Linked DNA regions of Homo sapiens: region 2 is linked to region 1. Evidence: fine-mapped expression QTL. A gene starts in region 1. The other region holds a variant in brackets. All regions are shown on one strand. Distances are between the middles of the regions.

Region 1 (5,371 bases):
TGCTTTATGTGCATACCCTTTCCACTAGTTAGTAAAAATGACCAAAACACGACTGTTGCAAGACTTTTCTCTCTAAATCTGTGGTTCTCAAGTAGGGGTAATTTTGCACTCAGGGGACATTTGGCAATGTCTGGAGAAATTTTTGCTTGTCACAGTGGAGAGAGGGGAGGGTAGAGGGAGATGCTACAGGCATCCAGTGGGTGGAGGCCAGGGAATGTGGCTAAAAATCCTGCAATGTGCAGGACAGCCTCCAACAACAAAGAATTTTTGGCTTCAAATATCAATAGTGCTGCTGCTGAGAAACCCTGCTCTAAAGACTTGGAAAAAAAAATGAGATTTAGGTTCATCTGTGACCAATATTACCAGTCATATCACTCCTGAATTTCACTTTAAAAATTCATTAGCTGATCTTCTTACACATCATCCCTAAGAAGTAGATTAAGAGTAATAATGGCATTTACTGAGTTCTTACTATGTGCTAGGTTCTGGGATAAGGACTTTATATACTTTATCTCACTGTTGTCCCTGTTTTCAGAAAAGAAAACTGAGCTCCGAGCAATGAAGGAAGTTGCAGATGCACATAAAACTTAAAATGGCAGAGGGAGGAATCAATGCAGACATGGAGTTCTGAAGCTTTTGCTGTTGCTCTCAGTGCATTTCTAAGGAAACCCAACGGTATCCATTTCATTGACCAATTGCTTTGTACCCAAAATTTTATTTTTCATAAGAGTTTTTCATTTTCTGACAAAAACTATTTGTTAAATAAACATAACTTCATAATTCTGATCACATCACTTGGAGCAAATTTGACTGATACATTTTAAAACACATGGATTAAAAAAAAAACTCCTTCTTTCCCGAAAAAGGAAAAAAGGAATGTATTTTTCATATTTTCATCTCCAATTTAAGGAATTCATTTTTGGAACACATATTATGCTTTAAATGGTGGTGCCAGGTAAAACTGCAAGGAAGCTTGTGCTATCTGGAGACACCCATACTTTTTTTTTTTAAGGACCATTTTGTAACTTTACAACAGCATATTGCATTTTTATATTCATGTGCCTGTCTCCTTCATTGTCCTGTGTATTAGTTTTCTACTGCTGCATGAAGAATTTAAACAGACCTAACAGCTTAAAACAACACCCATTTAATAGCCCACAGTTCTGAAAGTCGGAAGTCCCAGCACAGCCATGGCATCACTGGGTTCTCGCTCAGGTTCTGCGAAGGCTGCAATCATGGTAATAGTCAGGCTCAGTTCTTGTCTGGAAAAGACAACAAGTTTGAGAAAAAAATCTGCTTTTCAAGCTCATTCGGGTTGTTGGCAGAATTCAGTTCCTTGCAACATTGGCCTAGGCAAATAATTTATGACTAAAACCCCAAAGGAAGTGCAACAAAAACAAGAATAGACAAATGGGCCTTAATTAAACTAAAAAGCTTCTGCACAGTAAAAGAAACAATCAACAGAGTAAATAGACAACCTACAGAATGAGAGAAAATATTTGCAAACTACGCATCTGACAAAGGACTAATATCCAGAATCTACAAGGAACTCAAACAACTCAACAAGAAAAAAAAAAAACCCATTAAAAAGTGGGCAAAGGACATGAACAGATATTTCTCAAAAAAGACATACAAGTGGCCAACGAACATATGAAAAAATGCTCAACATCCACTAATTATCAGAGAAATGCACATTAAAACCACAATGAGATACAATCTCACACCAGTCAAAATGGCTATGATTAAAAAGTCAAAAAACAGCAGATGTTGGTGAGGGTGCAGAGAAAAGGAAACATATATACGTGTTGGTGGGAATGTAAATTCGTGCACAGTGCCTGGTTCAGAAGACACACTTTACAGAAAAAAGCTGGCTGAATGTTTATAACGTGTCTGTGTTTGTAGTGTTCAAGTCCTGAGGGCGAGGACCCTAGTGCATTTTCTGCAATCCAGTAATGCCTGTCCAGTATATGGCAGCCAGTGAGCACTCAACAGGTGCAATCGTTGGGCCACACACTCTTGTTTTAAAATGTGCTTTATCCTCTTGACCTTTTTAGGTTATGCAATGTGAATTCAAGCTGAATAATACTGAAGCCAGTCTTATGAGGCTCATTTCTAAGAAATATTCAGCTTTACGTAACGCAAATAAAAAATCACACACGCCCTTTGCAAGTGAACATTCATATTAGTGTCTGATAAATGCATTAAGAAGACACATTCCCTTAAATCAATCGGAGAACAGAACTTTGGTTTCTGCAAAAAGAAAAGCTCCCTTTTCCTTAGATTTTCTCAGCTCCTCCACTGCTAGCCCCAGACAAGGTCCAAGTTATCTGCAGTTCTATGGCCTCCCTTGCATTTAAATCGCATTTGGGCAAACGCTTCCTGGGCTTTCTAACTCCACAGAAACGCTAACCAGGTATTGGGCGCTCGCACCGCTTCCAGGTAACCCGCGGAGCTGCGGATTCCAGGCTCGCGCTGTGACGTCACCGGGCTCGCAAGCCGCGGCGCGGTCTCAGGCTCCGGTGATTGGCTGGGGCCCATGACGTCACGGCCCGGGGCGGCACCGCGATGGCCAGGGCCCCGGGATGCTCCGGGTTTGTTTAAAAATAAAGGGGGGGCGGGAGCGCCCAGGAAAATCCGGGCGCCCGCGGGGGTGCCGGCCGCTCCTCCCGCCGCCCCGCGTCCCGGCCCGGCCGCGCCAACCCCCACGGCGGCCCGCAAGGGGGCGGGGGGAGGCGGGGCGGAGGAGGAGCCGCGGGCGCGGCGCCGCGCTGTCCCCGGCCGCCGCCCGCCCCACTCCGCACCGCATGTAAACAGTCCCAGCCGGCCCAGCCCGGCCCCGGAGGAGCCCGCGCAGGCCGAGCCGAGCGCCGCGCTGCCCGCCCGGGAGGAGGGCGCCTAGGAGCGGGAGGGCGGGCGGCGGCGGGAGGCGGGCGCGGGGCCGCGATGGATTTCCAGCAGCTGGCCGACGTTGCGGAGAAATGGTGCTCCAACACGCCCTTCGAGCTCATCGCCACCGAGGAGACCGAACGCAGGATGGATTTCTACGCCGACCCCGGCGTCTCCTTCTATGTGCTGTGTCCGGACAACGGCTGCGGCGACAATTTTGTGAGTGCCTGGAGGAGGGACCGCCGGAGCCGGCGGGAGTGTGGACGCGGCGGTGCGTCCCTGCGCCCGAGCTCCCGCGCGGTGGGCGGCGGTGGGCGCAGAGTGGGGGGCCGTAACCCGCGCCCCGCGCCCCGCGTGCTCCGCCGGGGAAGCCCCGGGCCGGGCGGTGCGGGCTCCGCTGCCCGGGTGGGGCCCGGTGGGCGGCGGGCAAGGCGCCCGGAGGATCCGGGGAGCCGGGTCGGGGCGGGAGGTGTGGCGTCCCCCTAAAGGCCACTCCTCTCCCCGCTGCTGCGGGCGCCGTTTCGGGAACCCGACCTCGCGGCCCGTGCGCGGTGCCTGGCATGGAGCATCCCTGGGGTGTGGGTGTCACCCGCGTCGGACCAGCCGGGTCTGGGGCGCACGGACCCTCCGGCAGGAGCCCAGGTCCGGAGCTTCCCACATCCAGGCGTCCCGTCCGGGATAGGAATCCCGCTCCCCTCCGGTGCCCAGCCTCGGCTCCTCGCATTGCCCCTCCCGGGAGAACCCCACTCCCCGCCCTCGCGGGTTAGTCCTTGCACTGCCTGTTTGGACACAAAGCTCTGTCCATACTAGCGATGCCCGATCTCCTGGACCTTCTTTGCGGAATTACACCCCGGATCTTAATACGCACGCGCGCCTGCGCATACACCCCAACACACACACACACATGCTCACACCCTCACCCTCACACGCGCACACTCACGCGCACACGCGGCACGCCTCTCCCCCTGCCCCCGCGCTGCCCTCGCTGCCTCTCTGAGCTGCCCGAGAGGTGTGTGTGGCCCGGGCGGGTTCTCTCCAGCCGAGGCGGTGCCCTGGCCCTGCTGAAGCCCGTTGGCTTTTCCAGATGACGGGGAATCCCCTCAGCCCCGGCTCAGAGGGACCGGGAACTGGGACTGCGGTGTCCAAACCTTCCACTTTGAATCCTGCACCCACCTGGGATCCCGACTCTGGCAGTTGAGGAAGGGGATGCGGAGGGCAGGGGAGTCGGGGTGGGAGGGGTGGAGTAGGGCGAGCACGGTGCTCATGAAGTGTTTCCAAGGTCGGGGAATAAATAATGATCCCCAAATGTAAGATGGAGGCGGCCGTGGGCGCGGGTGACCGTGTGGTCGCGGGCCTTGTGGGCGGAGGTGGGGTGGTGCGGGGCGCGGCCTGGTGCACGCTCCTCAGGTGGGGGAGACAAAGCTGGGCCGTGGTCCTGCCGCCGAGCGCCCTGACCACCTACGGGAAGTTCGCGAAGGAGTTAGGGAGACTGCAAGACCGCCTTTCTTGGTCCTGGAGAGGTGAAGGCTTATGTATGCCTGGCCGATAAAGCATTCCCTCCGCCCACACGCACCCCCTGAGGAGGGCAGGGATCCACCTGGGCATTCCACAAGTGGCACTCCAGAAGAGGGATGGCCTTGTGTGACAGCCAGATTTGAGTTCTGGCTCTGTGACTGTGCTCAAATACCCACCCTGAGCTCAGTTTCCACATCCAAAAAAATAGGTATAATAATGCCAGCACCCAGGCGTTCATATAGGTAACGCACCGAATAGTCCCTAACACACAGCAAGAGCCCCACAAATTTGGGGTTAGAGACCTGGGGTTTCCCAGAATTTAGAGCTTGTCTCATTTTTTAAAGAGCCTTGGTTTTCCCACCTGTAAAATGGGGCTAATCAGAATACCTCCAGAAGAGCCAACTGAACAATAATATTAATGCCTGTAAGCCCATCTTAACTGTAGGTAAAGTAAGTAAATAAGTGTTCTTTTTGGAAGGAGTGGGAGATCATTAAAAAGGGATTCACTCCATTGCAAAAGTGTGAGAAAGCCCCCAGGATACAGTGGAAAGGGCACCAGAATCCAGCTGACTGTAAAATGTTAGGGTTTGGCTAGGGTCCCTTCCAGCTCTGGGCTTCCTTCATCTGCCAGCGCCCTTTCTCCCTCCTGACCGTGTGAAACAGGGCAAGAATGGCTCATGGTTCTGGATTTCACTGGGGAGAAGCCCACACAGCCTTCCTGCTGGGACCGCCCAGGCCATACCCAAAGAAATGACTCCAAAGACAGTAAGTGGGCCAGGAAGACAAAAGGCTGTTCTCTTGCCATGAATATGTGTATCCAACCATCGTTCAGAAGTAAGAAGTATTATATTATTTGTATCAGGCCTTTCTCTTGAGGCCACCCAGATTTTAAATATTTTCCCATCTGCATGAGAAAAATGCTTGAAAGTGTCATGTAAACTGACAATTTAAATAGAATAGATAGAAAGAT
Region 2 (5,371 bases), 27 kb after region 1:
TCTGTTTATAAAAATTGAGTGGAGATAGATAGACTCGGCCATTCTGTGGGCTGATGAGAATTCTGGGCTTTGTTTTGCACCAGGGGTAGGAAACAGAGAACATGTCTGTATGTTACTTAATCTCCATAGCAAAATCCCAAACAGCATTAGCAGATCGAATTGTTTCTTCTAAGACTTCCTTTTTCTGAATGTGTGCACATCCCTTCTCGTGCTCACACACTTGCCCACACACTCACTTCTTCCTGCGCTGTGGCTGCTCTAAGCAGGGCTGTGCATGGTGCAAAGCTGCAGTCAGTGAGCCTGGCAGCCTGTGGTTTCTGTTATGGAAATGGTTCCATGGTGAAACACATCCCTGACCCTTCACAGACTTACACATTTACTCACCAGGAGGTGGCAGCGGTGTGGGAGGAGGAGTGTTGACCTTGGACGCAGGAGAGACACCTGGGTTCTAGTTCAAGTCGGCCAAGGACTGTGTGACCTTGACAAGTCTAACTGGTCTGTGAACAAGGGGCATTTGCCCTTCCAGCTGTAAACACTGCCCTTCTGTGCCTGCCTTATGTGTGTGTGTGAGTAAGGAGCAACAGTCAAGGAAACTTTTAGGGATTCGAGAAGAAAATACATGTGGGATCTTGCCAAGGTGCTGCCTTTAGGATGCTGACCCCTGCACTACCTTAGAACATGTTGATCTGTGAGTGCCCAAGCCCCTGAGGGCTCGATCTCATGGGGCAGATGAAATTCTCTTCCTTAGAGGAAAGGGAAAGGTGAGGCCCCAGAGGACTTATCTCAGCTGTACATGCTCTGCCTGTGGAGACATGGCTTTTCTTTGTGCTGTGGCAGACTGGGGCTTTGGAAGTGGTGTATGTTTAACTTACCTGAGAGTGAGAGATGTGTAGGAAGAATAGCTGGAAGAAAGTGAAAGATGAGTGCCAGTACTTTTGGCCTGTTATCCAGTAGAGAGAAAGTGACAGTGAAAGTAACGTGAGAGAGAAAGAGTGTGTGTGTATATGTGAGAGAGAGAAAGAAAGAGAAAGGAATGCTTGATTGCTTGTTGTTCACTGGGCCAGCTCTGAAATCCAAAATCATGCCTTGATAACATTACAAAACCGTGATCCTGGGTTTGAGTGAATCCTAGAGACATTGTTCTTATGGCCGCCTGGTTTCCGCAGCCTGATCACCATATCGAGCAGACGTCAAGGAATCAGAGTGAAGTACGGAGCCAGGGAGGGAGGTGAGGCCCCGTGTAGTGCCTGTCACCACTGTGGATTCACCTGCACTCAGGTGTCCACTCCTGTCTCCCAGGCCCAAAGCAGCACATGGTGCAATGGAAAAGTCTCTTATGTAGGGATCCTCCTTGTGTCCTGGTGCCAGAATTAGATTTCCAGTGTACTTCAACGAAAACCTCTCTCCTTTATAGTTGCTGTCATCTTTCATGTATAAACAGAAACCGTCTCTAGCACAATATATTTCTGAATATTGTTTCTGTTTCATAAGAGCACAATGTACATGGACCTAGGGGAGCTGTGGTCCCAAGTGTCATTGGAATTTATATTTTAGGAATAGGCTTTGCATGTTAAAATTCACAAGTTGGGAAACTGGTATGAACAGATCTGATTTCTTACAGAGAGGCATGAAGGAATAGGCAGGACTTAACTTGGGGTGGGAGGAGATGAATAAGGGAGAATGGGAGAGTTGGGGTCTGACAGTTACCACCTGAGCCCCAGGAAAACTGTTTTCATTTTCACGGCTGTCTCACTGGGGGCCTGCTTTCCTCAAAGGAACTGACTGTATGTTGAGAGGCAATGCCTTGTGTTGGCATGGCTTTGCCACTTTAAAAGTGCCCCCCAGCCAAGGAGACCAACAGGAACCCTGCTCATCTGGTAGGGCTCTTTCCTTCAGTAAAACCAGCTGCCAGCCTGAGAAGCCTGTCTTTCCCAAATGCAGGCAGATCTGAGAGGGGCTCCAGGCACCCGGCAGGTAAATCACAAAGCAAACTTGGGTGTCCTTGGCAGCGGGGAGGAAGCAGGAGTGCCCCCTCAGGCCAGAGGGCAGGGCCAACCTCCTCACTGTGCTTCAAGGTTGTAGAAAGAGCACAATTAATGCTTAAGCGATCACAGACCCCTCTCCCCTGCAGTGGGTGTTAGCTCCAAAGAGATGCCATTGCTGATCACCCAGTCTTCGGAGAAGCCTAAAATTTCTTTGAATTAAAAACTGAT[C/T]CTTTTTCATAAAGACCCAGTCACTTCTCCCAGTTTAGTGATAACAGGTATGACACAAGAAGCTGAAGTCTTTTAGATTTTATAGAGAGTAATTCTGAAACCTGCCAGAATGCTGGTAGCCTGTGGTGTCCATGGCAATGGGTGTCCATGGTAAAATATCTATAGCTTCTGCTCACTGGGCAAATATAAAAGACAACATATTATTTAACATAATATGTTGTCTTTTATATTTTTATTTAAATCTGGATTACGAAAATATAGTACCCATGAGCATTTCATGTTAGAAACCCCATTTAAAGCACTATAAGGCTGAATAGGCACAAGCGATTAAAAGTAGATGCCAGGCCACATAAAAATAAATGTTTTAATTTACTTAGAGCTGTATTCAAGTTGTTTGATACCAGACAGAAAGCTGACAGTCTGTTCTTTGTAAACTGCCTTTCCCTGTTTTTCTGTTTTGTTTTGTTTCTCAAGTTTCATTTTTTACTAAGCCCCTTCTGACACCTAGGCAGATAAAGATAAGAGTAGTGCGCAGTACAAATGTCAGCTCTGAAGAGGAGGAAGTAAATCTTCAATGCTAGGGCAGATCTTCACTATCCGTGATCCAGTCTTAATTTGAGCATGAGAGCAAAATTTAGTCATCTACACAAGAAGCAAAAGCAAGGAATAGTTGTTGGGTTTTTGTTTTTTGGTTGTTGTTTTTTTTTTTTTTTAGGCAAGAAGTGTTGCCGGTAGGGTATGTGTGCTTTCTTTGCCTTCCTATTTCCTTTCAAAGAAATCTCTTGTAAATTACAAAACTGTGAATTGGGTTGCCAAAAACTGTTGCCCTTCGTTAGATGCTTCAAACAGTGTAAATCCTATACTGCACCCTGTCCACCTCTGCTCCCTCCTCCCTCCCCTGAGAGTGAGGACCTCATCCGACCATGTAATTACCATTCGCTTGCTATTAAAGAGCCTTTCAAACTCTGGTGGTGTTTGCCTCTTTTTTTCTGCCTCCACAATGTTTGGTCCCAAAGGACACCTAATGTGGCTTATAAATGAAGAGCAAAGAGTAAAGGACCGGCAGCTCGCTGTGTGGTTGCTGTTTGTGAGGAGGCTGGGGGAAGAGAGGGAGGAGCTGGTAACATGAAACACTGCCATTGTTCAAAGATTAATCATTTCTGTGTGATGCATTCATATGTCTATTGTGATGCTATAACTGGTAGTTAGTAATTTTCTACTTCTTTGAACCAATACTTTAGTTTTGTGTTTGAGAACCCTATTTTTTCTAGCCTACTTAGGAATTCTTTTTGGCATTAATTAGAAATCTGTATTCTGTGGTCATTCTATGACATGACACCATGTCTCCACCACCTTCCTCCCGGTTATTTATTCACCAAACATGGCATTTAAATAACTCATCTGGAAGTTGATGGTAAGTTCTGTTATTTGATTAAGAGCCAGTTTCTTTCTCCAAATGAATGGGTCTCCATAGAGAGACCCATTAGATTCGATTAGATTTGAGTTTTGCTTTACAGGCACAGCATAAAGGCTTGTGTGTATGTTAGATAGTGTGTGGTCCTTTGTTTTCGATGTGGCTGTTAGAGATTGTACTCAAGTGGTGAGCTCTGTGTCAGCAGTCCCAACCCTGCTCGTGGTGCAGCAGCGGGGGCAGGCGAAGTCTTACTTATGGACTTCCTTTGTTACAGTTATTGTATCCGTCTCACAGATAGAGTTTATAAAATGCAGGTTGGCCCCTTTAAGTGCGGGCACTGGTGTTAAAAATACCCACATTTCCCCCGTGTAATCATTCTGAAATCAGTGGCTGAGGGCAAGAGGTTCTAGCCCAGACTCCTCCTGGGCTGACTGTGGCCCTAGGCATGTCCCCTCCCCACCCCACCGACTTCCGGCTTTGTTTCCTCATCTGTAAAAATAAAGAGTGGGAGACTTGTCCCCGAGTTCCCTTTGGGCACTAGCCCTGACTTGTCTAGGGGAGTCAGGAGTCGGTAGAGAGGACATGAAGCACAGTTGTAATGGAAACACTCACAGAACCAGGGTGGGGCGGCCAGGATTGGCAAAACTGTCCTGGGATTCTGAAGCTCTTTCCCCTAGGATCCCTTTTAGAATTGAAGACGCCAGTTGATATCGTGGCTGTGTGTTAGCCCAAATGCTTATGTCCCTGCGTGTTTTCTCCTGCCTTTCCACACCTTCCTTCCCTTCGTGAAAGTAATAAGGAGTCAGAACTACAACAAAGTAAAATTGGGGTGTTCAGCTTAGGGATGTAATCAACAGTCTCACTCCCTTTAGAAATGAGCCTCGTTTCCATAGTGAAGTTGGGCCGAGTGGGATCCTCCATTGTCATAGAGTTCTTTGTGTACAGGTTTGGGTTGAAGGACAACAAAATAAACAGAACCAGACCCACCACCCAGCATTTGGACGCCACGCCGGGGCTGGACAAAGTGGACTTGCTGTCCGTGTACCTGAGTGTCAGGGTGGTTTTGCCCTGTGCCCTGCCAAATCAGAGTGAATGAACATTCCTGTCTCTGTTTAGCAGACTTGGCCCTTTGGAAACTCAAGAAATGCATCCTGAAAAAGCTGGCACTGTGCTTTCCTCTTAGGACCACAATAGGCAAAAAAAAAAAAAACAAAAAACTGAAGTACTTTCCCTATCTCTAACCCTCCTTTTTTCCTTTTTGGAGTAAACAATGGCATTTGTAATGATCTGGGCAAGTTTTAATTAGGCAGTCAAGGAACAAGGTAGGCATTTTTTTAGGGATCATTTAAAGTAACATATTTTATCCTTATTTTGTTGGGAAATAGGGCAACAATGTACAGTGTAAAAACCAGCAGTAAAATTAAGTTGGCCCTTTCGGATGCTTTTTAATTAGAAGCCTCTAGAGGTCAGCACCACATAAAGAAAGGGCTTTTGAGTTCAGGGTGATCATGATGCCCATCTCCTTGTGGAGCTTTTGGAAAGGAGGGTTGGTGAATGTCCAGGCTGGGGAAAGAGAAGTGAAGAGCCGCCTTCTTTATACATAAACCCTAACATTTGACTGGGTTGTTTTTTTCCCTGCTCACCCATCTTTGCAGCTCCCACACCCCTGCGTCACACACTGTCAGTTCGATAAACATGACTTATTGACCGGTCGATGAAGTGTGCCATTTAGCTCATGCTGAGA

Evidence for each region.
Region 2: its variant is fine-mapped to the expression of MTURN in whole blood (TOPMed, PIP above 0.99).

The regions. Positions count from the first base shown.
Region 1 is chr7:30,132,194-30,137,564 of GRCh38, forward strand. MTURN (maturin, neural progenitor differentiation regulator homolog) reads left to right here and starts at 2,793. Exons shown (of 3, transcript NM_152793.3): 1 at 2,793-3,105. The coding sequence starts at 2,944. LOC105375216 (a long non-coding RNA gene) reads right to left here and starts at 2,521. Exons shown (of 3, transcript XR_927146.3): 1 at 2,411-2,521; 2 at 1,124-1,262. RefSeq lists silencers at 2,691-2,940, 2,711-3,088, 3,281-3,420, 3,741-3,920.
Region 2 is chr7:30,159,584-30,164,954 of GRCh38, forward strand. It overlaps MTURN (maturin, neural progenitor differentiation regulator homolog), which reads left to right. Exons shown (of 3, transcript NM_152793.3): 3 at 1-3,179. Among named protein-coding and RNA genes, the nearest start is that of MTURN, 27 kb to the left of the region's middle. RefSeq lists silencers at 209-268, 3,866-3,925. The variant C/T (reference allele first, on the strand shown) is at 2,214.